Linked DNA regions of Homo sapiens: all the other regions are linked to region 3. The links come from fine-mapping of genetic effects on gene expression. A gene starts in region 3. Each other region holds a variant in brackets. All regions are shown on one strand. Distances are between the middles of the regions.

What was found.
Region 1: its variant is fine-mapped to the expression of ANO6 in whole blood (INTERVAL, PIP 0.97).
Region 2: its variant is fine-mapped to the expression of ANO6 in whole blood (INTERVAL, PIP above 0.99).

Annotation. Positions count from the first base shown.
Region 1 is chr12:45,412,256-45,423,261 of GRCh38, reverse strand. It overlaps ANO6 (anoctamin 6), which reads right to left. Exons shown (of 20, transcript NM_001025356.3): 17 at 6,358-6,563; 18 at 1,989-2,191; 19 at 200-305. All of the region lies in intron 5 of LOC105369743 (a long non-coding RNA gene), which reads left to right. Among named protein-coding and RNA genes, the nearest start is that of ANO6, 200 kb to the right of the region's middle. The variant T/C (reference allele first, on the strand shown) is at 5,373.
Region 2 is chr12:45,274,064-45,285,069 of GRCh38, reverse strand. All of the region lies in intron 1 of ANO6 (anoctamin 6), which reads right to left. Among named protein-coding and RNA genes, the nearest start is that of ANO6, 63 kb to the right of the region's middle. The variant T/C (reference allele first, on the strand shown) is at 4,750.
Region 3 is chr12:45,209,827-45,220,832 of GRCh38, reverse strand. It overlaps ANO6 (anoctamin 6), which reads right to left and starts at 4,738. Exons shown (of 20, transcript NM_001025356.3): 1 at 4,442-4,738. The coding sequence starts at 4,511. It also overlaps the pseudogene PLEKHA8P1. RefSeq lists enhancers at 3,733-3,862, 4,873-4,972 and a silencer at 4,103-4,412.

The DNA of each region.
Region 1 (11,006 bases), 200 kb before region 3:
TTTAAACTTTAAAAGCAGATAATGCTCTCGTTAATGAAGTTGAGTATTTTCAGGTCAATACTGATTAACATATTTCCTAAAATATTAGCAAGTGATAAGAAGAAAGTATCACACATGTTAAGTATGGAGTTGGCAACACTTAATGGAAGGTCTGCAAATACACATCCTTATAAACTGTTTGAAAGCATACTTTTCCTACCTCCATGACAATGATAAAAGCCAGCTTGGCTGCAATCACATGCCAATAGTAGATGTTGTGTTTATACTCCTGGGGGTGTCCAGGTGGGTATCGGAAATCACGATACCTGAAAACAAAATGGAGACATATTGGGAGACAAATCTTTTTGACTGAATACTGTAAACAAAGGCCCCATTTAAAAAGAGGTCATGCCGGGTGCAGTGGCTCATGCCTGTAATCCTAGCACTTTGGGAGGCTGAGGCATGTGGATCACTTGAGGCCAGGAGTGCGACACCAGCCTGGCCACTATGGTAAAACCCCGTCTCTACTAAAAATACAAAAATTAGCCAGGTGTGGTAGCACGTGCTTGTAATCGCAGCTATTTGGTGGCTGAGGCATGAGAATTGCTTGAACCCGAGAGGTGAAGGTTGCAGGGAGCTGATATGGTGTCACTGCACTCCTGTCTGGGCAACAGAGCAGGACGCTGTCTCAAAAAAAAAAAAAAAAGTCATATTTGATTCAATGCTCTTTTAAACTGGACATCACATACATTTTCTCTTAAAGCTCAATTTGGTAACAAAGCCCCAAAATAACTACAGTAGTGCCTCATTTAATATTTAATCAGAGAATGATGGTAATAACATGGTCCATCTTTGTAGAAAAGAATCCATCTTTATAAAAGAACTAAAGTTTTAAATTTGTTCTCCCAACATTTATCCCTGTTTTCTCAAAACAATTCCTGTTTTGGGGATCATATTTATAAATTTATTTATATAATGGTATCATCAGGGTTCACTCAGCTATGGGACTCTCTCTCCTCATACAGAGTGCTATCTGCTTGTTATAATTTTTTACCTAATTCTTTGTTGTCAGATATCAAGTGTTAACTGCTGTTAGTGTATCTTCCTCAGGTAGGACATCTCTAATTTTATGCCTGTAAGCTATTAAACCTAGAAGAGTTTAATTTCTGATTAGAATTGTGGAAAGTAAGAATAAGCAGATTTGATGCAGAATTGTAAAGAGGCTCCACTAGGTGTAACACAAACATTTATTTTGGGCTTATTTCTGGTTTCCTGGTTGCATCATTGAGAATCTGAGTTAGTGAAGGCTTTGAGGAGTTGGACTAAATAAACTTTAAAGCCTCCTATTTTAGGTAAAACTCTATGGTCCAGGAAAAAAGGTTGATGACCTACAGTTCACAAACTTTATCAATTGGTAATTTACCTGGTACATACTGTCCACTGTTGAACTCACCAGCCATTAAAATCGATGCAGAGAACTTTGGAATATTTTTAGATAATACTGTTCAGCTGAGATTTCACATCTCTTATCTTTGTATGTCCCTGTTATGTGAGGTGCTAGTTTGCCATCATTCAATATCTTCAGATTGTGCTTGAATAACACAATAGTATTAACAACTGAATTATCTTGGTTCTTGGACCTCTTGAAGTTTCTCTATTTCTATGACTTTTCTTTGGAATCAATCTCCCTGTAATCGTTTGAAACTCTCAACTTTAAATCTTTATGGTTTGGTCTGAAAGTTTTACCCCTGGTCTGAAAGTTTTACCCCTAGTCTTCATTAACTTTTTAATAAATATACATATATATACATTTTCTGAGTTTCACTCAAGAGAAAGCTATGGGGAAAAAATGTCTCTAGCAGCTTGATTTAAATGACACCAAAGCACCTGATTGATCCTGAAGTTATAAAGAAATAAAAATTTTAAAAATGACACCAAACAGAATTAAGTCACAAGAAAAACCCTTTTAAAGATGAAGTGCATTTTTAAACAAGTAAAGCAGAACTTGCCTGCATGTGGTATGGTTACCCAGGTCAGAGTACGGGTTTCCCTTGCTTTTGTTTTTGAAGTCTGCGACTTTGAAGATGGAGAGAGTGTTGTTGATGTACCCTTCCATGGTGTAGGAAGTGTGGTCCCCGTAGGGAGGGACGGAGAAGGACCAGTAGTACACTAGGCGGGGGATCATGTCCGACGTGAAAGCTATGATCATGGCCTATTTTGGGAGAAAAACAAAGCGAAAATGAAGTTATAGTTTTTTGTTTTTGAGACGGAGTCTCGCTCTTGCTGCCCAGGCTGCATGGCACGATCTCGGCTCACTGCAACCTCCACCTCTTGGGTTCAAAAAATTCTCCTGCCTCAGCCTCCTGAGTAGCTGGGATTACAGGCACGTGCCACCACGCCTGGCTAATTTTTGTACTTTTAGTAGAGACAGGGTTTTGTCATGTTGGCCAGGCTGGTCTTGAACTCCTGGTCTCGAACTCCTGGTCTCAGGTGATCTGCCCACCTCAGCCTCCCAAAGTGCTGGGATTACAGGCGTGAGCCACTGCACCTGGCCGAAGTTATAGTTTGTATAGGTCAGGTTAACAAATATGCCAGAATTACTATTTTCATCGTGTCAATTTTTTTTAAAGATTCAGAAATCTTAATTTTTTCTTAACTGCAAAATATATGCAGATAGTGAGATAAGATCTTGCTCTGTTGCCCAGGCTGGAGTGCACTGGCATGATCACAGCTCACTGTAACCTCGAACTCCTTGGTTCAAGTGATCCTCCTGAGTAGCTAGAATTACAGGTACACTCCACCATGCCTGGCTAATCTTTAAACATTTTTTGTAGAGATAGGGTCTTACTATGTTGTCTAGCCTAGTCTGGAACTCCTGGCCTCAAGCAATCCTCTCAGCCTCTCCAAGTGCTGGGATTATAGGTACGAGCCACTGATCTCAGCCTAGAAGACTTGCACATGTAATCAGAGTCAACATTATGAAAATAATTGAGCTTTATATAATTGATTTAGCTCTTTTCATAAACACAGAAGGTAAACTGCATGTTTTCCTTGATCTAAATTTAAATAATGACCTCTAAGTTCACTTTTTTCCTGTATAGTATTATGACTTGTTTACACAAGTCAAACCATGACCTGATTTGTTTTAAACTCTCAGTACATGGTTATGTTTGTTGCTTCATTATAGAGTGTGAGCATTTATTAATTTTAACAAAATTTGGGTAGTAGAATTATATTGGGGTTGTCCCATTCATAGTCAAACAATAATGTCTGTTTAGTCTGATCTAGTATCTAAGTCTCTAAACTTCAAAAAGATTAAGTGGATGAAGTTATGAAAATTATAAGTTGAACAACAACATACAGAAAATTTAGTATGTTCCTAGATAAAAGGAGTAAATATGGGCCAATCATAAACCTGTGTATCAGAGAGACATCTATTAGGAGGTAAAGCTATTCTGAATTATATGAATTTTCTCTAAAATTCTTTAATTTGGGCTTTAAACTCTCCAGTGTGTAAAACTGGTTGGAAGGAAGGAGAAAGGATTTTTACTTTAAACCAAATTCTATGTGAATAAAACAGCTAAATGATTGTCATTGATGAAGCAGAAAAGTAGACATGTTTTTGGCTTAACATGATTTTTAATAGTATTCATCTGAACATATGGTTTAGGCATAGTGAGACCACAAACCAAATCTCAGGCAAAGCAAGAAAAAACAATTAGGGGGCTTTTCTATTACAAAATTTCCCTCACTAGAACCAGCTTTGTCATTTCCTCTGATGTGAAAAATGTACATATACATATGAGTGTGTTTCTGCCTGTCAGTACTGGGGAGCCACACGAATATTTTACCTTTTTTCCCTCAGATTTCAATAGATTAAATTTTGCTATTATCATTTAACTCAACTATATCTTTTTATAGAATCACTGGCAGATGTGCATCAGAAGCTACAAAAAATTCCAACAAGGAAGATAATTCTATTGTCTTCTGACAAGATACTTTTCTTCCTGAATTGAGCTGCTCTGAGAGACATGCTGCAAGAGCACAAATAAATGCAGTGTGTTTCATTTCCCATGCTGTTCTGCACACAGTTTTCCATTTATATAAAAATAAATTAAAATTGGTCTTCAATAACAGATGCTCTGGCATGATACAACAATGTCAATTCAGCTTATTTATTGAACCAGCAGCTTTAAAATGAATGATTTTATACCAAATTCCTGCTTGATGCCCACTCTCATCCTGGTGGTTATTCTCTTTTTGTAGACAGTAGGTTGTGAGATACACACTGGGTGTTTGAGGGAATAAGACACACATTTAATGCTTGCACAAGCACACATATAAACATAGATGTCTATGTATGTGGATGTATAACTGCCATCTTGGAAGTATAACAAATCCTAATATGGAAAAAGGGATTGCCCATAGTTTAATCAATGTCACAAATCTAATAAGCAGTTTTCCTAGGTTAAGTGATAAGAAAAAGCCATTATTGGATAAGAACCAATAGCACCAATTAGCCAGAGTGAATGTCTGTACACATACACACACTGAGTCGCCTTGGAAACAGCCAATCCTCCATCTGTGCTCATGGAGTAGAGCCATGGCATGGATGCTGGGAAAAGGTACCTAATACAATCAATCTAGAATGCTTGAGGAATAGGGAGAGTTTGAGTCAACTGAATTTTCTGGTTAGTTGAAGGTAAAATAAAAACCCTTTTAGTTTCAAACTTTGTTGCTGAAAATTTTCTTAAAGCACACAAGTCCATGTTCTTGTCCAGCTTAGTGTACTAGAGCATATTGAACGTGCTGTCATGTTCATTGTTTTATGACTGAGGAACTTGAAAGGCCTCACTGCCATTTTTCTAAACAGCAGTCTTCATTTTGCAGCACAGTAGATGTTGAAGGTGTGGGGTACCTGGGTGAAAGGAAACTGACATACCCCAGTAGTTGGTTTTTGTGTGCGATTTGCAACTTTCTCCAAATAGTACAGATAGCATGCAATTCAGATAAATGTACGGTTCTGGGGTAGGGATGACAGCTAGGTTCCAGATAACTTGTTTTATTGTATAAAACTGTAACCATTGTCCAGACAGTGGTTGCTTTTGGAATTCCTGTGCCTCCAATTGGGGTACCTGTCAGAGTCCTCACAGCGTTACTGTTAATAACAATGATGAGTAATGAAGATGATAAAATAACAGCAGCTAACATTCAATAGAAACGAGGCTTCATGCATTAACTCAATGAATTCCCTAACACTGTGGTTGGTATGTACTATTCTTATGATATGTGGTAGGGAATTAATAATTTTACAAATAATAAAATAGGGCTCTGGAGTGGTAAGGCCTGGCTCAAGATCATGCAGCTCAGAGCTACAGTGCTGGGAAGTGGAG[T/C]TCGGGTCTACCTGACTCTAGAGCCTACAGTGCTCAGTAACTTCCCTCATCCAGAGCCTAAACTACAGGCACTGCCAACTTCTGTTGTTTTGGCTGGGGACTCAGGGAAGATGTGGCTTAAGAAAACAAAACTGGGGAATCACTTTGTTAGGGAGGTTCACCTGGGAGTGAGACTGTCAGTGAAATATGGGAGGAAATGGCCCTAGTTTTGGGATACTTCTTGGGAAGGTGGTCCTCTAATGGGCTGGCATGAAAATTGCATTGCCTGAGAACTTCCTGTGTGCCTGTACATAAAAATGACACTGTTCAGATGGCCCATAATCAATGAATACAGGCTGTAAACAACTGAGTTCTGTCCCCTCACAGCTGGGATACATACAGGGCATGAGGCTGCTTCAGCCAATGACCAAAGCATGGTGAGCAAAGACCTAAGGGTGGGGTGGGAAGGGTGATGAAACCCACCCACCTTCCTCCTTTAAGAGCTGCTGCTCTGGAGTCAAGGAAGGTAATTAGGAGTGCACAAAGTGTTTATACTTCACCATCAGAGTCAATATTTTAGGGTGATGCTTTGGAATATGTAGTAGTAAAATATGGTAGAATGATCTTATTTTAGGGCCCTCAAACTCTAAATGAACAGATTTCTACCCACATTATAAAAAAAACATTTTCTGATAACTCCTTTTATAGTTATGTGAGGATTAAAAGTGTTAGTACTTCTTATCATTACCATATTTCATACTGAATAAAAACTTTAGCAAATGAGCAATAACAGTACCTGTATAGGAGGTCTTGACAGTTAAAAATAATTATATACAAAATGAAAATACATTTAACAAGTGGTTATATATAGCAACTATATCATTTATGTGGATGACAGACTTAGCATCTTCCTCTCATTTTAAAAAACACTAAACATTTGATTCCTTAGGTAGCAAATCTAATGCATCTTCAAGGTCTTTACTCTGTAAAGCTTAGGTCTACTCACATTGGTCACCACAGCCAGAATTGCTATTCCTTGCATGATGGGCTGCCATGCTCCAATGTCTTGGGCTTTCTCTGGTACCAGGCGTCTAAACTGGGTGGTCAGTTTCCATGCGTCCACTCTTATTTCCAATATATTGTTCACGAGAGCCAACAGAGGGGCCAGTGGAAAAGAGGCCACAAATAAGGTGACGAACCCAAACTGAATAACTGTCAATGGAATGGACACACATCATGGAGTGGTGGTGGATGGAAGGACAACATATTTTCCTTTACTCTTGAAAGAGAAAGGCAAACGAACTAAATCCCAGAGAGAAAACACATCTGTGGTAAATAATAATTTAGTGTTCAACAGTGAAAGAATTCAAACAAAACACAAATATAAAATCTCTGGAAAGAAGATTAATTATAGCCTGTTTCTTTCACATGTATACACTTAATAGGAACAATATATTTAGACATCTTTAGTCAACCAGAATTATTCGCTGGTAATAAACTTGAGACATCATAAGCATATTATTCATTCTCAGTGTTGAAATAGAATGTTGAAAGAAGATTTGTGGTTTAGGATTTTTTTTTTAAGAAAAAAGAAATATTGTGGCATTATCTAACAAGTTAAAGACAAAAAGAAATGGACCCATGGGAAGGCTATACTTAGAGAACGTTAGAAGAAATATGCTGAGAACAAGCAAATGAGTGAGCTCCCCTGAGTCTGCAAATGCAAATGCAGTGCATTCAGAGAATTTGACAGTAATAGAAATCACAGAAATATATGTGATAAAAGTGTCTTAATAAATTATAATATCCTTCCTTAAGAATCTTGAAGTTAGTTGCAGTCCTTGTGGTCATAATAAGTCAAAATTTGAGTGGTGGCTTAGAAGTTCTTTTCTCCTTGTTTGTAATTGACACGGCCTTATTAAAAATGGGGCAGCAGAGATTTTGGGGTAAGTGATACCACGGAGAGGAAGAAGTAAGAAAATATCCTCAAGTTTTAGACCCTGCCCTCCTAACTGGCAGACCTTCAGAGGAAACATCTACAGATATGTAACTAAAACTGTGGATGGGAGGAAAACATAGAGTTCCATTAGGCCTCATGCTCAGACAAGGGGCAGGGATGACTCTGTCAGGAAGGGCAAGGCTGTGGAGGGTGTGGCGAGGCAAGCAGAGCTGGCATTTGCTTCTGGTCAGAGAGCCAAAGGGCATGTTGCAGAAGAGCAGACAGGGCTAGAAGGATCCAGTAAGTCCCACAGGCCAGGCAGGAACACTCATGCAGAGAAGTCAGCCAGGCAAGGACCAGAGTTGGTGATGCTACAGAGTCATGAGCAGCAGCAATAAGCAGTGATGTCAACTTCCCTATGACTCACCCAACCCTAAATAACTCATCAGCCCGCAGGGCATGCAAGTAATAGCCATGTGTGGAGTCAGCCCGTCAACTGTGGTAAACTAGCAAGCGTGTGTCCTATGGAAAGGGACAGCTCATAGTTGCCATGTTGGAATGAGGGCTCCATGTTGCCAGATCTCCTGATTGTTCAAGAGAAGCCAGAGATTAGGATTATGTTATCAGTAAACCTTGTTAAAAATCCAAAAGAGAAAAGATACCATTTATAATGACAACAAAAGCATAAACTATTTAGAAATAAATTAATGAGAAAACTAAGACCACTATGATAATTGACTTAAGAAAAAACAAATAATGATGAATGAATGAGTGGTAGGATGTGCCAAACTCTTGATTGGGCAAACTTGAATTCAGGGACATATCAAATTTTTTTTCCACAAAATAATTTAGAATTCTAATGTAAATTCTGTTAGTAATCCCAAATGGATTTAAGAAAAAAAAGCTGACAGGTCAGCCAGGCATGGCAGCTAATCTCTGTAATCCCAGCACTTTGGGAGGCTGAGGCGGGAGGATTATTTGAGCCCAGGAGTTTGAGACCAGCCTAGGCAACATACCCTGTCTCTACAAAAAATACAAAAATTAGCTGGGCATGGTGGTACGAGCCTGTAGTCTCAGCTACCCAGGAGGATGAGGTGGGAGGATTGCTTTAGATGAGGAGGCGGAGGTTGCAGTGAGCCGGGATTGTGCCACTGCACTCCAGCCTGGGCAACAGGGCGAGACCCTGTCTTTCAAAGAAAGAAAAGAAAAGCTGAAAAGTGATACTAAAGTTCTTCAAGAAATATAAACAGGTAAAATAATGAACAGGGATGTTTGCATAGACAGTATTGGGAACATTGTGAAAAAATAAAATGGGATAGCTCTGGGAGATATTGAGTGTATTATAATGCTATGGTAATTGAAACAGTTTAGAACTAGTATATGAATAGATAGTATGAATTAACCAGGGTGAATTTTAAGAGGAGATGCAAATATTCATGGGTTTTTATATATTATAAAGTGATACTTTGAAGCAGTGGATGCAAGTATTGACACAGCTAGCTAAGTCATGGGAAAAATTGGTATGGGGCCATCACTTCTGACACCAAAATAAATTCCAGATGGATTAAAAATATTATATTAAAAATAAAACACCAGAAAAAGCCCATATAATTTGTTCTGATATTCAAGTGAGAAAAATTTTATAAGCAACTTTTGAAACCAAGAATAACAACAACAAAAAGTCAACGCAAAACACCCACTGAAAAAAAAACAACCCTTGCCTGCAACTTTTTCATAATCCTATACTGCTCTCTAATGCTTTCTCTGCTTGCTTCTACATGTTACAGTTGAGTTTTCTGAAGGAAGTGTCCACCTTCACAACAAGTGGTAGAGTAACTACTCCCTGAAGCCCCGCATCCTGCTGAGACCCTCACCACTGCACTGGACCTACTCTTGCTAACTTTGCCAGTGGCTGCATGTTCATAAGCTGATGTTCCTTTTCAGTCCTGATTTTTGTGATTTCTTGTAACATGGCCATAAGAAATGTACGGCCAAGATTTATGTGACATGGTCAAACAGTCCCCCTGCTGTGGAATATTTGTTTCCCCTTGATTTCTTTTTTACTTAGTTTTAAAAAGTCAAAATATATATTGAAAAACAAAAAAACTAAAAAAGCCCTACCTAGCTATAGCACTGCTTCCACTTCCCAACCCAGGTCTAGCAATTAGGACTTGTGTAGGTGCTGGCTCTTCCTTTCTTCCCCCTCTGTATTTCCCATTATGCCCCTTTTCCATCATGTCCAAATTCCTCTGAAGCAACGTTATCATCTCCCAAGCCTTCTCTGTGTTGACACAACTCTGCTAGACTTCTTCCCACTGCTCTGCTCTTCTTTTTCTTTGTGAGCCTCCCTCACTCTTCACTCTTCAAATGTCCCTTTACCCCCGGGCCTCATCATCAATTCTCTGTCCATCTCTCTTGATATTCCTGCTAGGCATGCCTGATTCACCCTCGTGGCCTCACCCATGGCTCCTCTGAGCTCCTGACTGTTGTGTCCAACTTTCTAATGGACATTGCCTTTCAGATGTTTTCATGCTAAAAATATCCAACACTTAGGCATTTCCTAGAGAACAGCTCCTCTCCTTATGTTCTGCCCTGCATATATGGTCTCCTGGAAGTTATCTTAATTTTATTCCTCATCTGCTATGCAATTCACCGCTTTAACACTTACCAAATCCATCTCCCTCTCTCTACTCCTATGCCCACTATTTAGGCACCTATCACTTGTTGTCTGGGTTACCTGCTGTAGCCTCCTAAATCATCTCCCTCCCACCACGAATCTCATCCAAAATATTATCTTCCATTCTGCTGCGTGATTGATCTTATTCCACATAAATGTTATGCAGTTATCTTGTTTACAAATATTCCAGTGGATCCTAATTTCTTTAAGAATAAAGTTCAAGTCCTCAGGCTAAGCACACCAGACCCATCATGATATGGCCCCTGCCTACCTGATATTCCCACCTGTGAGTCCTTTGTTCACTTGCCATTCTTTGATCAAGCTATTGTACTTTTAAATATGTCCACCTCTCCACACAAAATGTCCATTCTCTTCACCATACTTTAGATAACTAACTTCCATTCACCCTTCAAAATCCAGTTCAAATATCACCTGCTCAAGGAAGTCTGATTAGCATTCTCCTTAACCATGCACCAAGCGCTGAGCTCCGTGAGGGGAGGGACCAAGTGCCCTGGTATCCCCAGCAACTGAGAGTGTTTGGCACAGCAAGTGCTTAATAAATGTTTAATGGATGAATGAGTGAATGAATGAATGAACAAATGAAGAGCTGGAGGACTGCAAATCCTCCCAATTACCTAGTTGCCCTTTTGGAAAGCTCATCCTGCAAAGGTTAGGAGACTTCATGGCAGGTGATGGGCTCGAACCAAGCAGAGATGAGAGCATGAAGGGAAGAAGGCCTGAGTCCTGGAGAGTGCAGCAGAGGCATCGGTGGGTTCAGCATAGGAGGAAGAAAAAGAAAGGGGTACGAGGAGCTGCTGAAGAATAGCTGATCTTCATTACATGGAGAAAATCATATATGAAGGTCATTGTTTTAGCAGATTTTAAAAAATTAACTTGGAGACAGATGAAAGTGAGATCAAGGTACCACGGCAAGGGTGGAAGAGGCAGTGCCAGAGACAAACAGGGCCCACTCATCACTTCAGTGCACTCTGTTTATGGCACTTGCCCACCAGGAAGGCCTCATCAAGTTCTCAGGACA
Region 2 (11,006 bases), 64 kb before region 3:
AGTTCTTTAGTTGAGATCTTACAAAATAAACAGATTATCTGACTACAGCTAAATCATCTTAGAGATTCAAGCTACTTAAAATTTCTTAAATATGCACTTAACATGTTAATTACAGAAATAACAGAAATGACATATAACTCAGATTGCCCCTCCCTAGGGAGTAATAATCCTGAGGCTTGTTCCAGGATTAAATGTCTTAAATTACTGGTCCTTTGTGGTTTCATCTGAGGCCTGCTTTTGTCCTTGTCCTTTCCTTTTATGCGCCAAATTTATACAGGCATCAGACTTTCACACATAATAACTATCATTTACTTGGCATGCAGGATGAGCTAAGCATTACAGTAGGTCTTAGATACACGACAACAGTCACTAAGGTATTTTACGTGTGAAGGCTTTAGGTAAATAAAACATACCAGTGACCATCTGGGGAGAACAGATGCCTGCAAATGGCTGGGGGAGCCCAAGAAGAGACTCCTAAAGCAGCCTGGCTGGGAGTTGGACGAGGTAGCCCCTGGTGGGCATCAGCAAACAACACCCCTTTTAAAATAAAGGCCTTAGCAGCAGCCTTAGAAGCAAAAGTTTTTCTCTGACCTTCTCCTGCCCGCGTATCTCTCAATCCCCTTCTCCCCTGAGGCTGGCCACAGAAACTAGAAGATGAGTTTAGAAGCCAGAATTCCTTTTGAGGGATTTTTTACAAAATTATACAGAAAGGTGGAGATAAAGAAATTCTGGCCATAAGATTCTGGCCATAAAGTACTTATCTGATCTACACTGTTTGACTGTAGGTTAAAATCCACATTCCAGAGAGTCTTACCCAGAAAGAAGGAATGCTGCTTAGAGAGGTCAAGAAGCGTCTGGACACACAGGCCTTGCTGGGTTTCCCCATTCTGTCTATTCGCATTAGATCAGACCCTTTTTTCCAATTGTGTTTCTACATGGCTGTCTATACTTTCTTGAATCTAAGCATAAAAATGGACAATTTCCCCTGTATCTTTGGGTCTTCATTCTGAAGGTTTCCATATCATCTAAAACTATGATCAAATAAATTTGTATGCCTTTTATCCTATTAATCTGCCTCTTGTCAGTGATTTTCAGCAAACCTTCAGAAAGCAAAGGGGAAGTTTTCCTTTGGCCTTGACACCCCTAAACCATGTCCTTATGGATGCATAAGAGGAAGTGAGAGACAATCTAAGAGGTTGTTGTGATAGGAAAACCCAGGCTGGAATAACAGTGATGGTGGTAGTGGGGATAAACAGAAATACATGGATTCCGGTGACATTAAGGTATTAGAATCAACAGGCCCTGCAGGCTCATAGGAAAGGAAGATGAGAAATGCTTAGACTACGAGTCCTGTCTGACTTTACCTACTGGGTTCACTAAGTAAGAAGGGCCTTTTAAATCTAACTCTTCCTTCACCAGTTTCAGCAGGAAATCTTAGCTCCCATTATGTAGACAGAGTAGAAAAAATAGATGCTATTACATGGAAACATTAAATTATATAACTGAATCAACCAAATTATATTTATTCCTTCAACCAATAAATGTTTGTGGCACTCTTGCTAAACGTAAGCACTGGGCAAGCTCTGGAAATACAGCAGTAACTGAGGACTTTGCCTTTCCCCATCCTGTCCCATCTACCCACTCCTCCTCATGGGAGAGGTGGCATATCCCTTCTGATCATAGCCCAAAGCCTCCTCCTATGCCATGACTCCCATTCCCACAGGACTTCTTGTGACTTCAGCACTTTTTACTGTGACTTCAACCTACGCTTCATTTTCACCTTTGTCAACATTTTTCATGCTCAGATTTATTCCATCTTAAAAAAGTAAAAAGCCTCTCCTTAGGAAATGTATCACTATCAAATGTTAAATGTGCATATACTTCGACCTCACAAATTCTACTTAATTCCTGTACACATTTGGAAAAATATAAATATGCATAAGTACGTTAAGATGTTGAGTGTAACATTATGAGAGACACCAAAATTTCTAAGTAAAACTAAAATATCCAGACAACACTACAGCACAATAGAATAGTATGCTTCTACTTTAGGGAGTAACATGTCTATAATATACAGAACAAAAACACAAACTCTGGCCAACGACATAGCAATAAAGCCAATTTTTGTAATGTAAGTGTGTATGAGAGAGCGAGCAATAGCACATGTACAGAAAAGTCTTGAAGGATACACCTCAAACTATTAACAGTGGCTATATATGAGAGAATGCAATTATGGAGATGATTCTCAGTTATACTTTCTAATGTTTAGAACTTTTACAATGACTCATTGTAAAATATATTGCTTTGTAATCAGAATAAAACAATAAAGATAAAAGGTTATCAAAAAAGTTAAAACAACTTTAATCAGCCTTTCCACTGCACCTATTGCATTATAACATAGTCCTTACTACTACTGATAAGGTCAAAGTACGCTGGCACTCCTCTACCATGGACTCAGCCCCCATCAGTCACCAGCCGGCTCTAAGGTCCATAGTGACTTGCATGCTGCTAAACCTAATGCCCATTTTACATTTTTGCCTTACTTGACATCTCAATGAGCTTTGACACGGCTGGCCACGACTTCTTTTGAAGACTCTCTCCTCTTGGTTTCATTCTCTTAGAGGGTCTTCCATTTCTCTGATTTCCTCCATTGGTGCCTCCTCCTTGACTGCGCCTTGACTTCTGAAAATATTCAGGGCTCCATCCAAGCCCTGCTCCTCTTTGTCTGCTGGCAACTGTTAACACAGGTAGACTAAAGGTTCCAAATGCATTGCTCTATTTCAGCCATCTCTTCTGAGCCACAGATTCACATATCCAACTGCCTATGCAACATCTTGACTTGGAAATGTCCCAGGCATCTCAGACTCAGTATTAACACACAGGACTTATGCTTCCCTCTCAACCACAAACACACTCAAAGCTGTTCTTCAATATTTCTTGTCTGCATAAATGGTAACCCCCCTTATTTGGCTGGTCAAGCCAGAAACCTGGTTGTCATCCTTGACTAGCCTCCCTTCCGCATCCCCCACAGCCAAACATTCACTCTCCTATGGTGCTGAAGAGTTCTTGACTGTCTTCCTCTCTTCATCTCATCCTGCCAAGCCCCTTGCATCTGTTATTGGGACTATTGCACCAACCTCCTGACCGCCCGCCCACCTGCCAGCAACTTTCATCCCCTTTTAATCACTTATCTTTTCAGTAGCCAAAGCAATCTTTGAAAATAAAATTCTGACCCAGTACTTTTCTGCTTTAAATACTTTAATAGCTTCCCATTAGGAAACCACTTTCAAATTTAAGATAACAAACAGATGTTATTTCTGTAATGGGGAATGATATGGTTTGGCTGTTTGTCTCCTTCAAATCTCCTGTTGAAATGTAATCCCGAATGTTGGATGCAGCATCTAGTGGGAGGTAATGGACCATGGGGGTAGATGTCTCATGAATGGCTGAGCACCATCCCCATGCTTATGAGTTCTTGCTCAGTTCACATGAGATCTGGCTGTTTTAAAAGAGTATGGTATTCTCCTCTCTCTCTTGCTCCTGCTCTCGCTATGGGACATGCTGCCTCCCCTTCGCCTTCCGCCATGATTGTAAGCTCCCTGAGGCCCTCCTAGAAGCAGATGCCAACAGTGCACTTCCTGTATAGCCTGCAGAACTGTGAGCCAAAATAAACTTATTTTCTTTATAAATTACCCAGTCACAGGTATTCCTTTACAGCAACACAAGAATGGAATAACATGGGAAAAAATAAGACCAATGATTTTTAAAGAAGGCTGGTTAAAAAGAGACTACAAGCATCATGAGGACAGAAGCTGTACCTATTTAGTTTGCTGTAGAACCTCAGTAGTTAGCCAGAATCTTTGTACACAGTTGACCCTAATACATATTTACTAAATGAATAAATAAGGTAGGGTTGAGGAAGATATATTTTTGTTCATTTTTTGTGCCTTGTTTTATAAGATGAAACTTGTATTCATATTACCTATTCACACACACACATATACACATACACACGTTGATGGAAAACAGTGAAAGAAAAACACAGGAGGATCACTGATGGAGAGAGGCATAGGTGAAGGCATTAACATTTATCAGAAAGATGACAGATGGGAGAAGCAAAGATGAATGTAAACATGCATTTATATATGCATTATATATAAAATATACATATATTCTCTCTCTCTCTCTCTATATATATATAAAAACACATATATGATACAATTTACATGCACACAATGTATATGCATTTTTGGAGGAAGGGAGATAAAAGAAGTTGAGGCAGTAGCCCCTGCAGGTTTCCTTTCCTTTCTGATTTAAGAAAATGATCTACTGAGAGGCCAAGAGGGTGTGGAATAGAGGAAGACAGTGAGAGTTTGAAACAGTTTCTGTGATTGATAGGAGAGCATCTGCTGACTCGGTGTGCCAGGATCAGTTTCCATTCTGCTGGGTTTTTCTTCTGAGCTCTGTAAATATTCAAGACTCCAATTTTCTTTTTGGCTTCCTGTCCCAAGGCAATGTTTTCCCAGAATCAGTGCAAGAATCAAATGTGTAACAATAACCAGGAGAACTATGCAAAATGATTCCTACACCTTGCCTGATGGAGATTCTGTGCTAGTAATTGGTGAGGGGTTGGGTCCCATGTACATGGCAATTTGTGAAGCACTGCCCTTTGGTCTGTAGGCCACAGGGTCACTGATCTCACAACCACATTTTCTCCTCAGTCATTGTACTGACCACAGCTGAGCACAC[T/C]GGGTTACTGATCAAACTCGTCACTCAAAGTCACGGTGACATGCCATGTCCACTTTGTCTTTCCATCCAGCTGAGAAGCAGCAACTTAGAAAAGAGAAAAAAAATATACAGAGATGGGCGTATTATCTTTTCAAACATGGCTTTGATGGGAAGGACACATTTCCTGATGGGTGCTCCCAGGATGGCCATCCTTGCCAGAGGGCAAAAGGGGAAAAAATAGACCTCTATTATCTTTCCTGTTCTTCTGTTCAAAACTAACATTTTATCTGGCTATTGAGAACATGAATCCAAGTGTGCTTTGGAGCTGAACTGTTATCAGCTGAAAATAGCCCAGAGGAAAAAAAATCCACAATTTTTAACCTTTTAACAGCTCTTGTTCATGAAATGTGGGTTGCAATTTTACCTGACTTTGAAAATGTCAGAATTACTGAGACTGACTAAAAAATACAAGGAGAAACTTAACTTCACATTTCTTCAACTGGCTGCCACAACTCTGTTTCCTATTCCGGTGTTCAGTTACATACAATTATCTCAACTTCTTGGAAATAAATCTATGCGTAAAAAGAGATCTTAAAATCATTTTTAATTCCTTAGTCTTATGGAACAGAAATAATGACAAGGCAGGATGCCCAGGATTAAAGAGTTTGTAGCAAATGTGGGAATGGAACCCAAGTGTCCTAAACACTGACCCAGGGGCTTTCCACGTACTCGCCCCATAATGTAACAAAAGAATTACGGTGAAATGGGGACTCAGAGGTCACACAGAAATTTGTTTCAGAAGTGTGATCAAATGCCTTGTAAACAATTAAAAACTCATGTCGGTGAAACTTTATTTAAAGATGGAAGACTGAATATATGCATTTAGCTCTGCCCCCTCCTCAAGTACTACCAGAACATAAACCAATAAAGACAAAGAAAATAGAGGAGGAGAGACAGTAACACAATTTGGGGAGACATTGTGTTAGGCAAGTGCAACTACTTAGCCAATTGGAGAAAGCTAAATACTAAAATAGGAAAGCCTCGAAGCAATTTCATTTAAATTATAAGCCCTCAAGAGGCTGGCAGCACAGGCTCCTCTGGAAGTGGGACTGAAGGTAGGGCAGGAGAATGGTCGTAAGTCTGTTTATTGAGGAGTTGGACCTCCAGATTCCCTTCCTCAAGGCTTAAAGACAAGTGGTTGCCTCCCAACCCCACCCTACCTAGGAAAAGACTTGAAAGGTATTCTCTGGAAAGAGTGAACAGAGGCTCTTCAGACAAGAGGATACTAGGCACAGTTGAGGATGGGGATCCCATACTGAAAAGACAGATTACACAAAAGATTACTGCTGAATGTTGAGACTCCTAGACTTCTACTTAGCTTTCTGACTAGCTGTATTTTCTCTTGGTCTGATTAACTTGGAGGGGTGGGTGGAGGGACGGCCTAAAATTACTAACAGAGTTTCCTAAACAAACAGCCAAACAGGTCACCCTAAAGTGAAGTGCATAATTGCCAAATGCCATCCACTACTACAGAACTTCCAGCCATCTTTCTAGACAGCTACTCAAAAATTAGAAGGGACAAGACTTCCCAGACACTGAGAGGGCATCTAACAGAGAAACAGCAAAGCAACTTGGTGAAGAGGGAGAAATCACATGAAAAAGACGCTTAAAACAAACAACAAAAAACTCTTGCATCATCAGAGATTGAGAAAAGTGCATCCATGAAATAAGGACAAGATGTTACCAAAGGGAGAGAGGGAGAAAGAGAGAAATAGTCAAAGAATAAAAAAAAGAGCTTTTGGAAATTAAAATGATACAGAAGGCTTGAAAGATAAAATTCAGGAAATGTTCAATAAAGTTAAGCAAAAAGAGGTGAAAAATAGGAAACATGGAAAATTGGAGAACCAATTCAGGATAGCCAATATCCAAATAACAGACGTATTCATGGATTAGACAAAATGGAAGGCAAGTAACTGTCAAAGAAATTTCCCCAAATTGAAAAGGATTAGGAATTAAAGAACACCTTTCTCCCACGACTGAAAACAAACTGAAGGACACTTTTTTCCTTTAAAAAATGGAGTTGGGGGTTGGGCACGGTGGCTCACACCTGTAATCCCAGCACTCTGGGGGCTAAGGTGGGGAGGATCACTTAAGGCCTAGAGTTCCAGACCAGCCTGGGCAACACAGAGAGACCCTGTCTCTACAAAAAAATTTAAAAATTAGCCAGGTGTGGTGCATGCATATAGTCTTAGCTACGAGGTGGAGGGTGGTTTGAGCGGGGAGGATAGCTTGAGCTAGGAGTTTGAGGGTGGAATGAGCTATGATTGTGCCACCTACTCCAGCCTGGGCAACAGAGCAAGACCCTATCTCTAAAAAATACATATAATAATTTTTTTAACTTAAAAAAATGAATTGGGTGGGGCTTGCCATAGTGAAAGGGTCTCCTGAGTTTCCACCATACTAATCATTATGGAATTTCTAAGTACTGCGTTCAAAGAAAAAAATCCACAAAATTCCAGAGCGGAAAAGTTTTTCATACAAAGGATCATAAGTCAGAATGGCAGGAACTTTTCAAGAGCAACTCCTGAAAGTAGAAGGCTTCAAAATTCTGAGAGCAGATAATTTCCACCTTTGAATTATATACTTAGTCAAGCTGTCAACTGAAAGCCAGAGAAAAATACAAGCATTGTCAGACCCGCAAGTTTAAAAAAAAATTACCTGCCTTTAACCCTTTCTACATAAGACACTGAGAAATATGCTCCATCAAAATAAAATAGTAAACCAACAAAAAATAAGACATAAATGTAGGGCTCCAATACAAGTTCTCAGGATGGTGGTGAAAAGGAATCCCTCACTCGGCTGAGGTCTAAAGACCAACCTGGGCAGCGTGGAGGAGATCAGAAGGCTGTGGGAGGAATCTCCCCCAAAGGATGAATTTGACAGGATTCCATGCATGGCTGATTACACTGAGAGGAGATTTACAATTGGGTAAAAGTGTGAGGTTGAATTATTCATAACTATATGAAAAACTAATAATATCAGTATCTGCTGTACAGTCTCCAGAGGAAAAGTAATCAAACTATATTATATAGCTCATCTGTGGAAAGTATTACATAGTTATAATAAAGTAAACACTGCATACTGATCTTACCAAAATTATAACACAATTACAATTGAGGGAATGGGGTTGGGAAAGTTTGTGAGAGAAGGGAAGGGGGCTGGAGTAGGTGAAAAAGAGCTAAATACTTCTGCATCAATAGATAATGCCTAAAACTGAAAAATAGATAAATTATAATTTAATTATGTTAACCAGAGATATAGAGGTAATTACTAAAAGAATCAGCTACAGTTAAAAATCCTGGCCTCTGGGGAACAGCGAACAGAAAAGGTGATGCAGCTGGTTTTCATAACAAAACCTGCAACATTATTTAATTTTTGAGTTATGTAAACATTCTAACTAATTATGTAAAACTTTGACTAAAATAAAAACTTTTCATTTCTCCCCCAATTAAAAAAGGCGGGGAGCTCATGGCATGAACACATATAAACGTAAGAATCACTGTTCTGGCACCTACTATATGCCAGGCACGTGCTAGATGCAGAAGATAAAACAGAAAATGTCCCTTTTTAGGAAGCTTATATTCCACAATAAAAACTAAATATAAGTACTTTTAAAATAACTGACTCTGCTTGGAGATATGAAGGAAATAAACAAGTTGATATAGCAGAGATTAAGAGATGGAAGTATTTCGGGTAGGGTGGGTCACAGGAGCCTCCCTGAGGGGTGATATTTGAGACATGAAGTATGAGGAGTTGGCTATGCAGGGCTAAAAAAAAGAGCATGCAAGGAAAAAGAAAAAACAAGACCATAGTTCTGAAGCAGAAAGTATCTTGGTGTGCTCAAAGATATGATCAAAGATCGGTGTGACTGCAGGGCAGTGAAGACATGAGAGGCTGGGGAACAAGTGAGGTAAACACTGACAGGTAAACAATGGGATGGCACCACACCATCACAGAGCATACTTCTGTGGCAGGAGTGGAAACGACAGACCCAGTCATTAGACTAATGTTGAAGTCCAGGTGACGAAGCTGGCCTAAGATGATAGTAGTGGAGACAGAGAAGATACTCAAAATCATTTTGAAGGTAGAAGTACTGGGGGGAGAGGAAGGACAATAGAAGAGAAACCAAGGATGATATACAGGTTTCTGACTTTGTAAATTGGAAGGATGGTGGTACCATTTACTGAGATGGTGAAGACACAGAGCGCAGAGGCAGGATGGGGTAGATGGGACATGGAAGCAAATCAAGAGTTCCTCCCTGAACATGAGACATCCATCCAGGAGTGCTGTCAAGGAGGGAGGAGGGTACGGCGTCTAGAACTCAGAAGAGCTCAGTGTTGGAGATATACACCTTGGAGAGTCAGCAAATTAATGGTATTTAAAGCCCCTGAAATAGATGAGCATGTAGACAGAAGAGGTATGGCTTAAACCATAGCATGAAGAATTCTCAACATTCCCAGGAGGCCAAGTAATGAAGGAAATGCCAGTAGAGGATCAAGAAATGGCCAGTAGGGAAGGGGGAAGGCCAAGTTAGAAGGTAATTTCAAGAAGGCAATAGAAAACTGCTTAAAGCCACTCAGAGATCCAGTAAGATAGAAACGTATCCATTGGAAGCAGCAACACACAGATCTTGAATGACTCTGCCACAATCAATTTCAGAAGAGTGATGGGAAAAGACACCATACGTAACAGATTGAAAAATAAATGAGTAATGAAGAAGCTGTAGTACATGTAGGCAACATTTTAGAAGTTTTGCTTTAAAAGGAGACAGACAGGCCGGGCATGGTGGCTCATGCCTGTAATCCCAGCACTTTGGGAGGTCGAGGCGTGTGGATCATGAGGTCAGGAGTTCGAGACCAGCCTGGCCAATGTGGTGAAACCCCATCTCTACTAAAAATACAAAAATTAGCCAGGTGTGGGGGCGGGTGCCTGTAATCCCAGCTACTTGGGAGGCTGAGGCAGGGAACTGCTTGAACCCAGGAGTCAGAGGTTGCAGTGAGCCGAGATGGCGCTACTGCACTCCAGCCTGGGCGACAGAGCAAGATTCCATCTCAAAAAATAAACATAAAAAAATAAATAAAAGGAGACAGAGAAACAGGGTAAGAGATGGAGACGGATCTAAGGGTCTAGAGAAAGGTGTTTGATTCTTTAGTATTTTTAACACAGGGATTCCAGAGCATTAATTTACTAACTCCTTCAGTCATACAACTTATCGAGCACCAGGATCAATGTCCTTACAGAGCTTACAATCTACTGGGATAGAGACAACAAACAAATGTACATATACTAATTTCAGTTGGAGATAAATGTTTTGAAGACAAAGCAGGTTAAGAGGATACAGAGTAACAGTGACATTTTAGATAGATAAGTCAGGGGTGACAGCTCTGAGTAGGTGACATTCAAGTGAGAACTGAAGGAAGTGCAGCAGCAAGCATCCTAGATGAGAAAGGAGTTGGGAGGTGACAGAGGGTGGAGAGGATGATGAGGATAGTGGCCAGGCAAGGAGTGACATGTCAAGGGACAGGTGTGGCTAGAGCACAGTTAAGAGACACGCAGAGCAGGAAGAGAAGAGGATGGAGAGGTAGCAGAGGCCTTACAGTACATGGCCAAGAGTTTGAATTTTATACTGTTTGTAGAGAAGCCACTACAGACAGTATAAAGGTGTAAAAGAGAAGGATCACTGTGACTGTTCTATGAACTCAGACCAAGAGGTGCATGAATGGTGGCAGGAAGCGACTACAGGAGTCCTTGCAAAACTTAGTAGTGGCCTGGGCTCCGATTTAGGTGTGGGCGCAGGGGATGTTGGGTGCTTGAATTTGAGAATACGAGGTGTCACAGAAAGGCAGGAATCAAGGATGACTTCAGCTTTGGGGCCTGAGTGACTAGGTGGTATCACTGCATAGGTTAAAACAATGGAGGAAGTATAGACTCACGAAACAAATCAAGAATTTGGTTTTGGAAATGTTAAGTTCAACTCATCTACTAAACAACTAAGTGAAGAAGTAAAGCCGACAGCTGTAAAGCAAGGGAGAGATAAGGAGTGGACATAAGTATGTGGAAGTCATCCACATACAGATGGCATTCAGGGCCTTGCAAATGAATGAGATCACCTAAGGAGTGGAGATGGGGAAGAGGGTCAGGGCACTAAGCCCTGGGTGCTCCAAAGTTTAGGGGCCAGAAGAAGAGAAGGATCCAGCAGGAGAGATTGGGAAAGAACA
Region 3 (11,006 bases):
TTGGTAGATGGGGCTGGAAGTCCAAACCTTTAATCCTGCCTTGGTCTTTCCAGTGACCAGCCCCCATCAGGAAGCTACCTAGGGGCTGCCAGCCATCTGTCAACTTATTAGCATACAAAAAGACACTTACCACTTTGAAAATTCCAAAAGTTTTAGGAGTTGCATGCCAAGAAACTGGAAGAATGCCTTATATATTTCACAATATCACAGTCTGGTTCTAAGGAACTTTTCTCCTGGAAGACACAGGTATGTCTTACTCATTTTCAGTCTCCCAACACCTGACCCAGCACCTAATCCTGAAACTAGCACAGAAGGATTGCTCAATCAATGTTTATGAAGGAAGACTGGGGCTAGTATCAGATTTATAGGTGATTAAACCTGAAGTAGGTAATAAGGAAAGAGAGGTGGGTGTGGGAAGATAAGTCTATGTAAAAATGTGACAGTTGAAAAGGGAGCCAATAGCTGGATCATTATCTCTCAAAGGTAATGGACCATGTCCTCTGTCTACCCCTCAATGACATACATGACCATTAGTGATGGGGATCAGACAGTAAACTACCATAAACAGACTAGGAACTCAAAGCAACCAACCAACCATCCACAAACAAAACCTCATTATCTGAACAGTCTGAATAGTTCCTGATAGTCTTTTTTGGAACCACTTTTCCTCCTTCAGCAAAGCTTGACCACAGAGAACAGAATTGAAGAAACAAAATAAAGCAGCATACTAATCTGATTTCTGCATTCTGGCTACAAAAGCTGTTCCTATAGCATTCTACATGAACAAGAAGAGATGCTGAATTTAATCCGCTGATGAGGGGGCGAAAAGCAGCCAAGGACACTCTTTTGCACACTTGGCAGGGTAGCACACAACCTAACTCCCAGGGGCTTGCAACAATATGTGATCTCCACCAGCACAACAGGGGCTTCAAACCACACATTTCCCACTACTACTGCCTGGATGTGGCTTCAGTGGTTGGTTGTTGGCTCTGCTTTAGAAATAAGTGGCCTATTGCAAAAATGCTCTAATGCCAACAGGTTGCCACACAAGCACGCCTTTGGAAATAATTTCTGCTGGCTGTAACTTAAACAAACAAGGAAAAGACATCCATAGTGAGATGTACTATCCTTGATTCTCCAGATCAGTTCATTCTAAACTAGGAGGCAACACTGACATAAAGTACTGAACAGCCAGGCATGGTGGCTCACACCTGTAATCCCAGCACTTTGGGAAGCCGAGGTAGGATAATCACTTAAGCTCAGGAGTTTGAAACCAGTCTGGGCAACAGTGAGACCTTGTCTCTACCAAAAAAAAAAAAAAAAAAAAAATTGGCCAGGCATGGTGTCACAAGGCCTGTGGTCCCAGCTACTCAAGAGGCTAAGGTTGGAGAATTGCTTGAGCCTGGGAAGTCAAGGCTGCAGTGAGCTGTGACTGCGTCACTGCACTCCAGCCTGACAGAGGGAGACCCTGTCTCTAAATGAATAAATAAAAGTACAATAAAAATACAGTGTTTCAAAAGTAAGCAGGAACCCACTGTTTAAAAGGCTCTAAATTCCAGCTACTAGAGGGCACATTTCCATATACATACATAAAGCATCTCTATGATATAATCAGGGACCCCATCCAGTTAGAAAGTTTTTTTTTGGGGGGAGGGGGAGGTCTCTTGCAAATTAGGCCATTATAACGCCCAATGGTATACCCAGGAACTCGTGTCAAAATAATTCTAAGGCTGGGTACAGTGGCTCATGCCTGTAATCCCAGAGCTTTGGGAAGCAAAGGCAGCAGAATGGCTAGAGGCCAGGAGTTCAAGACTGCAGCGAACTATGATCTTGCCACTACACTCTAGCCTAGGTGACAGAGCAAGACCCTGTCTCTAAAAATAATTCTCCCAGTCTGAATTATAAAGGTAATATTAATAGAGGGATTTCACAGAAATCTTCCGTACCCAAGTGGGTTTCAAACTATTATACAACTACTGACAGTGACAATCAAGTACTAGGAGAAATATTAGTTAATAGCGTAAATACAGACGTGCATTGCAAAATTAAAGGCAGAGGTTAAAATTATCTTCATTTCACCAGTCTCCTCTCCCACAGTTGGAAATAATAATTATTTTGTAAAAGGCTTTGGACCACTATCAGCCTACTCCTGGTAATCTTTAAAAAGGCTTATTCTTTTGTAAAGGCATAAACTTAACATTGGCATAGTTAAGTATTTTCTGATATAAAATCACTACAACCCACATTAAATTTGTACTTCCAAAAAAACAACCAACTAGGTGGATATGGTGGTGCCTAAAGTCCCAGCTACTTGGGAGGCTTAAGTGGGAGGATCGCTTGAGCCCCGTAGGTCGAGGCTGTAATAAGCCATGACCACATCACTGCACTCTAGCCTAAACGACAGAGCGAGACCCTATCTCAAAAAAAAAAAAAAAAAAAAAAGAGAAAGAAAGAAACAGAAATCACATTCATAGATACTGGGTGTTAGAACATCAGCATATCTTTTCATTCACTGAGAAGAAAAAAATATTGCCAAGACCTGTTTAAATGGTACCTGCTGCTTGACGTAAAATATGTTGAGATGACCCCTACAGTAGAGACCCCAGGGCCCCACAGGAATAGTGGGAAATGCCCTACTAATATTAACACTAAAGTATTAGTATTAGTAGTTTCTAGAGGGTGGGGAGGAGTAGAGATATTTAACTTTTTCTTAAGTCTATCTACACTGTTTGACTGGACAAAACTAGCATGAATGACATGTCATTAAAAATAAAAAGAGCTTACTGCCACACGCTTAAGATGAATTTATACGATGCCTCAATAGGTAAACACAGACTAGACCAAATTACTTTCTAAACTGAGATCTACTGCTGGCACAGTAAAACAAAGCTCAGAGCCTCTTGCTTACTTCAGTTTCCATTTGAGCTTCTGCCCTTATTTACTTACAATACTCATTATAAACAGTGCAGCTCACCATAAAAGACAATAATACTTTCCTGGGAAACAGACTGTGTCAATTTTATTGTAACTTTTTAAATTTCACTCCTATATTTTTATGTAATCATCAGGTACTACTTAATCTTGCTAAACAGTAGTAACAGCCAGAGTGACCCAGTGGTAAGAGCATTAATCTTCACTGGTTTTACAAGTCAGAAAACCTGGGTTTGAAAGTGTGAGAAGCTGGGCAGACCAACCTGTGCGCTTCAGTTTTCTCTCCTATAAAAACTACTACTATTTGCTCTCTCCTTAAAGATGAATAACTAGTAAATTGTTCTTAAATGAATGAATGAAATGTGAAACTAAATCATGGAGTGTAATCTCCTCTATTCGATTTGTCCCTGGACAACCAAGAAGTTACCAAATTTTTTTGATCGAAATATTCCGTGCCCAAAATGTAACAGAAATAAAAACCACACCCAACTCCTAAAATTAAGTTACTTTTAAAGTTATTAGATAACAACAGGGCTTTAGAACATCAGCAGGATGTTCTGCTTTAAAATTGATTTGGCATCCAGGAGACTAAGCCGAGTCGCCACAACAGACTGGCTTGGTAATTTAATTAGAGTCTTCTGGAGGGACACATTATATCATCATCCCCCGACAGTGTTCTCTTTAGGGACCTGATTTTCTCTCTAGTCCTCTCATTCCTTTCCCCTTCCTCACCTCCTCTCATCCCTTTTGTTTGCCCTTTTTTTCTTTTTTTGCTCTTAAAACAGCTCTCCCTCCGTTCGTCTTGTCACTTCCATGCATTTTTAACTCTAACTAGAAATGGGTCACCCCAGGTTTGCTCCCCAAGCCCCAGGGCCCCTCAGGACGAGTGAAAAAGGCCCTGCGGTCCTCCCTGCCTGGGGGAATTCCTCCTCCGATCACAGCTCCGGTGGGCTCCGCAGATGGGAAAGGGTTTCCAGCGCGCGCCTAGCGGCCACAAATCACTTCCCGGGGCCGCCCCGCCAGGCCTCAAACCTCCCAGAGCCGTCGGTCGGCTTTTACTTTAACGAGGATTCAGATGGGTCACACCCTGTCCTCCAAATGCGGGCCTGCTCCCCGGACCCCGCCCAGGGGGCTCGCCCCAGTGCCGAGGCTCCTGGGCAACCCTAGCACTCTGCGAGTCGGGGAAGTGACCCCAAAGTTGCTTCTGAGTGGAGACTTCCGCACGCAGAGGCGTCCCCGCAGCTGCCAGGCTTTTCAGGGGCAGCATCCCCCGCCCGTCAGGAGCCTGTCCTCGGGGCCACCACGCGCCCCGCGCCTCAGCCCCGCAGGGGCCGCACCGGGGCCTCAGTCTGCAAGCAGCCGGGGACAGCGGGCTTCCTCCCCTGCCCGGAGCGGCCGAGCGTCTCGGCCAACCTCCCCCGCGGAGAGCACAGCGCCCCCGCGCAGTCCCCGAACTTCTTCCCGCGTCGGCTCGGGCTCTCGGGTGGGGACGCGGGGACCCCTCGCTCACCGATATCCCCATCGTCGTCGTCCTCCTCCTCCTCCATTTGTAGCAAAACATTCCTGCTCATCTTTTTCATGTCTCCCTCAGAAGGCGGCTCCGAACTTGGCGCGAAGTTGGGGGCTCCCGGGTTCCAGAACGGCGCGGCTCTCCCAGGGGCCGGATCGGGGACCGCGGGGCGTGTGTCGCTTGGGCTCAGGGGCCGCTGAGCCCAGCCAGCGCCGGGGAAAGCCGAGCCGAGGCACCCACCGACCGGAGCCCAGAGCCGGAGGACGCCTCTCGCCTGCCGAGCGGAGCCCGGAGACTGAGCATGCCCAGTGCGGCCGCCGCGGCTCGCTGCGGAATGATTGAACTTCCCCGGTTTTACGAGGCGCGCAGAAGGAAGTCGGCAGGCGAGACTGCAGAGGGAGTAGTGCGATCCTGCGCGCGGGGGAACTAGCTGGAGGGCAAGGCGGGAACACGTGAGTGCGGGAGTGGACTGGGTTCCCTGAGCATTGATCCCAAACAGGGCAGCTTTTCGTTCCAAGGTCGTCTGTGGACACACACTGTGGCTTGCTTTGTTTTAACGTCTGATACTGGAGAGGAGGGAAATGCTGCTGCAGCACAACTGCAGAACCCTGGAAGGCGAACTCGTTTGAATGGCTTTTAAAGGCGACGTGGAGCTAATAATGGGGGGATCTTAAATTACTCTAGCTCCGAAGTGGGAAAGTGGAATCTGTACGGGTAGGTTAAGATTACGGTGGAGTCGGGGTGGGAGGAGAGGCAAAACTCAGAGAATAAGCAAAAGAAGAAGGGGCGGGACGGACGGGAGTGGGGGTGGAGAGAATTTTCTAAATAAACGTGTGCACAAAGGCAGGAGGATTTCCGCATACATTGAGGTCGCGGAGAGTGGAGAAGCGCCCCCTACTCCGCCCGCGCGAGCACACAGGGAGTGGTCGGAAGATAATCGCTGAAGCGTCCAGCCTATTTGTACAATTGAAACTAGTCCTCTGTGTCAAAGAGGGAGAAGAAGCCGAAGACCACTAGAGTTAGATGTAAACTCTTCTAAAGCAATGTGGAAAGCTATAATAAGAGAAAAGAAAGTCGTGAAATAAAATTAAGGCAGAGAGTTTTTATTTTTATTTTTAATGCTTTCCTGGAAACCAAAGGGACCGATAGGACAAATACAAAGGGATTTAGTACTTTAAAGACCCTTGGAGTTGTTTGAACGGCAGGTTTTGGGGATCGCGTGTCTACAAAACTTTTTTCAAAAAAGCTGGTACATTCAGGTTGTTCAATTTTGACTTCTCAAAAGGGCTAGAAGGTATATTTGAAATCTTGGTTATATGTGTTATTGTCTACTCATTGAAATTGTTTATATTTTTTCCACTGAAGTGCTAGGGTTATCACAATAACACTAAATCTACTGTGCATGTTTTTTCTTCCACATACTTTTTTTAAGACGGTCTCGCTCTGTTGCCGAGGTGGGAGTTCAGTAACTAGAACTACAAGCGGAGCACACCACCATGTGGGGCTTATTCTTAAATTTTTTTGTAGAGATGGGTGTCTCACTATGTTGCCCAGGCTGGTTTCGAACTCCTGGCCTCCAGCAATCCTTGCACCTCAGTTTCCTAACATTTTTAATGTTCTCTCTGAAAGAAAGAAAACATTGGGACCAATCTTAAGTGGGAAAATAGACATGAATATATACATGAAAAGACATGATGAAATTACTTTTAAGAAAATACCTGGGAAACACTATACTTGCTTCTTGAGGTACTTTTTTTGAATAAACAGAATTGTTTTTAGTATAAAGAGACAACAATACAGTACTCTGAAGATAGGAGAAAAAAATGATGGGAGAAGAAAGATGAGAAGAGATTGTTTCCTTTCACTGAACACTCTCCCCTGAGCTTGTGAAACTCACTAAAAGTAGAAACTTCAAAAGTGTTTTGGTTACATGATCAATTTTTACAATTTTCTTTTAACAAATTTTTGTGTAGTACTTTTTATGTGCTAGGAAAAGTTTTACATGTTTTATAAGCATCCAGTCATTCAACCCTCATAACAACCCTAGAAAGTGTTATCATTTTTCTTCAGGTGTGAGGCAACTTGAGCAACTTGTCCAAAATCACACAGGGAATAAATAGTGGAGCCAGGATTGAAACCTCAACAGCTTGTTTCAGAATCAGTGCTCATAGCCTCTTCATAAACCACCTCCAGAGACATGTCCCAATCCATTTTTTTTTCAGATCACTTTTTCCCCCACCAATTCAAAATTCAAAGTCTCATCAACTCCCTGCCATAGTTCTTTAACCAAATGTTCTCTCTTTTTTTTTTTAAGACAGAGTCGCGCTCTGTCACCCAGGCTGTAGTGCAGTGGCTAGATCTCGGCTCACTGCAAGCTCCACCTCCCAGGGTCACGCCATTCTCCTGCCTCAGCCTCCGGAGTAGCTGGGACTACAGGCGCCCACCACCACGCCCAGCTAATTTTTTGTATTTTTAGTAGGGACGGGGTTTCACCGTGTTAGCCAGGATGGTCTAGATCTCCCGACCTCGTGATCCGCCCGCCTCTGCCTCCCAAAGTGCTGGGATTACAGGCGTGAGCCACCGCGCCCGGCCTTGTTCTCATTTTTATGGACTAAGACTTCGGTCAAAGTTACTTTGTAGTTAAAAAATTATCGAAGTTGACTTTGCAACAAGTTTTAATTAGTCATTTAGAATTCTTCACAGATTTTTAAGAGTTTACATTTTTCTTCTTTGATAAATGTTGCAGCGAAACATTGTTGGCCTTATATGTAAAGGTAACTGTTGCTAGAAGGGAACTCTATTATTAGTAAATTCCATTCTTTCCTCTAATCCATTTTATTTCCTACCACTTCTCTTCTGCATTTTTTTTCAGTTGAGCAATCAATATATGCCTCAGAAATAGGATAATAGGCCTATGTAAGAACCACACATTTAACCCTGAAGAATTATCATCCATACAATAATAATTTGTGAAATAAAATATTAATATACAGCCAGGTTATTTGTATTTGCAAAGCTTTTTCAAGTCAGGGATCGCAGAACAATTATTTTCTCATTCATTCATCTGATTAAATACAACTTTTGGCCACCAGGATATTCTTTCTCTGCCCATCCTGTAAAAGTTGTTGCTTTTCTAGCTTCAGGTCTTGGGTCTCTTTTCTTCTCATCTTTCCCTATAGAACTCATTCAGTCCTATAACTTTACTATCTAATCCAGGCAGGGTCAGCTTGATGGGCATTCAAACAGTGTATTCACACAGAGCCCTACACTCTTATGGGCCTAACACTTGGGATTTAAATGTTCTGTGGTTAATGCCCATCAATGATAGACTAGATAAAGAAAATGTGGTACATATACACCATACTATGCAGCCACAAAAAGGAATGAGATCATGTCCTTTGCAGGGACATGGATGAAGCTGGAAGCCATTATCCTCAGCAAACTAACACAGGAACAGAAAACCAAACACCACATGTTCTCACTCATAAGCGGGAGCTGAACAAAGAGAACACATGGATACAGGGAGGGGAACAACACACACTGTCGGGGGGTGGGGTGGGGGGAGGGAGGGCATCAGGATAAATAGCTAATGCATGTGGGGCTTAATACCTAGGTGATGAGTTGGTAGGTTCAGCAAACTACCACGGCACACGTTTACCTATGTAACAAACCTGCTCATCCTGCACATGTATCCCAGAACTTAAAATAATTTTTTAAAAAAGATTCTGTGGTTGCCATCCTGAAATTCTTTTCTTTTCTTCTTCTACTTTTATTTTAGGTTCTGGGGGTACATGTGCAGTTTTGTTATGGGTAAATTGTATGTTGCTGAGGTTTGGTGTATGAATGATCCTGTCACCCAGGTATTGAGCGTAGTACCCAATAAATAGCTTTCCAACCCACCCCACTCCCACTCTCCCCGCTTAAGCAGTCTCCAGTGTCTATTGTCTCCATCTTTGTATCCATGTGTATTAAATGTTTAGTTCCTACTTACAAGTGGTAATGTGCAGTATTTGGTTTTTCTGTCCCTGCATTAATCTGCTTAGGATAATGGCCTCCAGCTGCATCCATGTTGCTGTAAAGGACATGATTTGGTTCTTTTCTATGGCTGCATGGTATTTCATGGTATATATATATACCACATTTTCTTTATCTAGTCCATCATTGATGAGTGTCTTGGTTGATTCCATGTCTTTGCTGTTGTGAATAGTGCTGCAGTGAACATACCAGTGCATGTTCATCTTTTTAGTAGGACGATTTATTTTTCTTTGGGTGTTTAACCAGTAGTGGGATTGCTGGGTTGAATGGTAGTTTTGAGTTCTTTGAAAAATCTCCAAACTGCTTTCCATAGTGGCTGAACTAATTTACATTCCCACCAGCGGTGTATAAGCATTACCTTTTCTCTACAACCTCAACAGCATCTGTTGTTTTTGACTTTTCAGTAATGTCCATTCTGACTGGTGTGAGATGGTATCTCATTGCAGTTTTGATTTGCATTTCTCTAATGATTAGTGATGATAAGCATTTTTTTCATATATTTGTTGGCCACGTGTATATCTTCTTTTGAGAAGTGTCCGTTGATTTCCTTTTGCATGTTTTAATGGGATTGTTTCTTTTTTGTCTGTTGAATTAAGTTCCTTACAGATTCTAGATATTAGACCTTTGTCTGATGCATAGTTTGTAAATAATTTCTCCCATTCTGTAAATTGTCTATATACTCTGTCGATAGTTTCTTTTGCCATGCCAAAGCTCTTTAGTAGGTCCCACTTGTCAATTTTTGTTTTTGTTGCCATTGTTTTCTGGGACTTAGTCATAAATACTTTGTCAAGACCAATGTCCAGTATGGTACTTTCTAGGTTTTCTTCCAGGGTTTTTATTGTTCTAGGTCTTACATTTAAGTCTTGAATCTGTCTTGAGTTAACTTTTTTATGTGGCGAAAAGAAATGGTCCAGTTTCAACTTTCCGCATATGACTAGCCAGTTATCCCAGCACCATTTATTGAATAGGGAGTCCTTTCCTCATTGTTTGTTATTATTGACTTTTTAAAGATCAGGTGATTGTAGATATGTGGCTTCATTTTGGGGTTCTGTATCCTATTCCATTGGTCTATATGTCTGTTTTTGTACACATCATGCTCTTTTGGTTACTATAGCCTTTGGTTTGAAGTCAGGCACTGTGATGTTATTTGTTCTTTGTTCTAGCTTTGTTATTTTATTTATTTTATTTTATTTTAGTTATTTTATTTTATGTTATTTTATTTTATTTTATTTATCTGAGACGGAGTCTCGCTCTGTTGCCCAGGCTGGAATGCAGTGGCCTGATCTCGGCTCACTGCAACCTCCACCTCCTGGGTTCAAGCCATTCTCCTGCCTCAGCCTTCCAAGTAGCTGGGACTACAGGTGCACACCACAACACCCAGCTAATTTTTATATTTTTAGTAGAGATAGTATTTCACCATGTTGGCCAGTCTGGTCTCGAACTCCTGGCCTCAAGTGATCCACCTGCCTCAGCCTCCCAAAGTACTGGGATTACAGGTGTGAGCCACCACACCCAGCCCAGCTTTGTTATTTTTGCTTCGGATTGCTTTGGTGATTTGGGCTCTTTTTGGTTTCATATGAATTTTAGAATACTTTTTTCTAATTCTGTGAAAAATAGCTGATAGATTGACAGGAATAGGATTTAGTCTATAAATTGCTTTGGGCAGTATGGCCATTTTAACAATATTGATTATTTCTATCCATTAGCATGGAATGCTTTTCCCTTAGTTTGTGTCATCTCTGATTTCTTGCTGCAGTGTTTTGTAATTCTCATTGCAGAGATCTTTCACCTCCTTGGTAAGCTCTGTTCTTTGGTATTGTATCCTTTTCTTTTAGTAGTTACTGTAAACGGGATTCCTTTCTCTCTTTTTTGTTCTTTTTCTTTTTTCTTTCTTTTCTTTTTTTTTTTTTTTTTTTTGAGATGGGGTCTCACTCTGTCACCTAGGCTGGAGTGCAGTGGCAAAATCACAGCTCACTGTAGCCTTGACCTCCCAGGCTCAAGCTTTCCTCCTGTCTCAGCCTCCTGAGTAGCTGGGACTACAGCCACATGTCACCATGCTTTGGTAATATTTGTTTTAATTTTTATAAAGAGGGTCTGCCTGTGTTGCCCAGGCTGGTCTTGAACTCCAGGGCTCAAGAGATCCTCCTGCCTCAGCCTCCCAAAGTGCTGGGATTACAGGCTTGAGTCATGTGCCCAGCCAGGATTGTGTTCTTGATTCGGCTCTCAGGTTGGCTGTTATTAGTGTATAGAAATGCTGCTGATTTTTGTACATTGATTTTATATCCTCAAACTTTTCTAAAGTTATGTATCATCAGTTCTAGGATCCTTCTGGCAGAGTCTATGGGGTTTCCTAGGTATAGAATCAATCATCTGCAAAGAGAAATAGTTTCATTCTCTCTCTTCCTCTTTAGATGCCTTTTATTTCTTTCTCTTGCCTGATTGCTCTAGCTAGGACTTTCAGTACTATGTTGAATAGAAGCAGTAAGAGTGGGCATCTTTGTCTTGTTCCAATTCTCAACAGAATGCATCC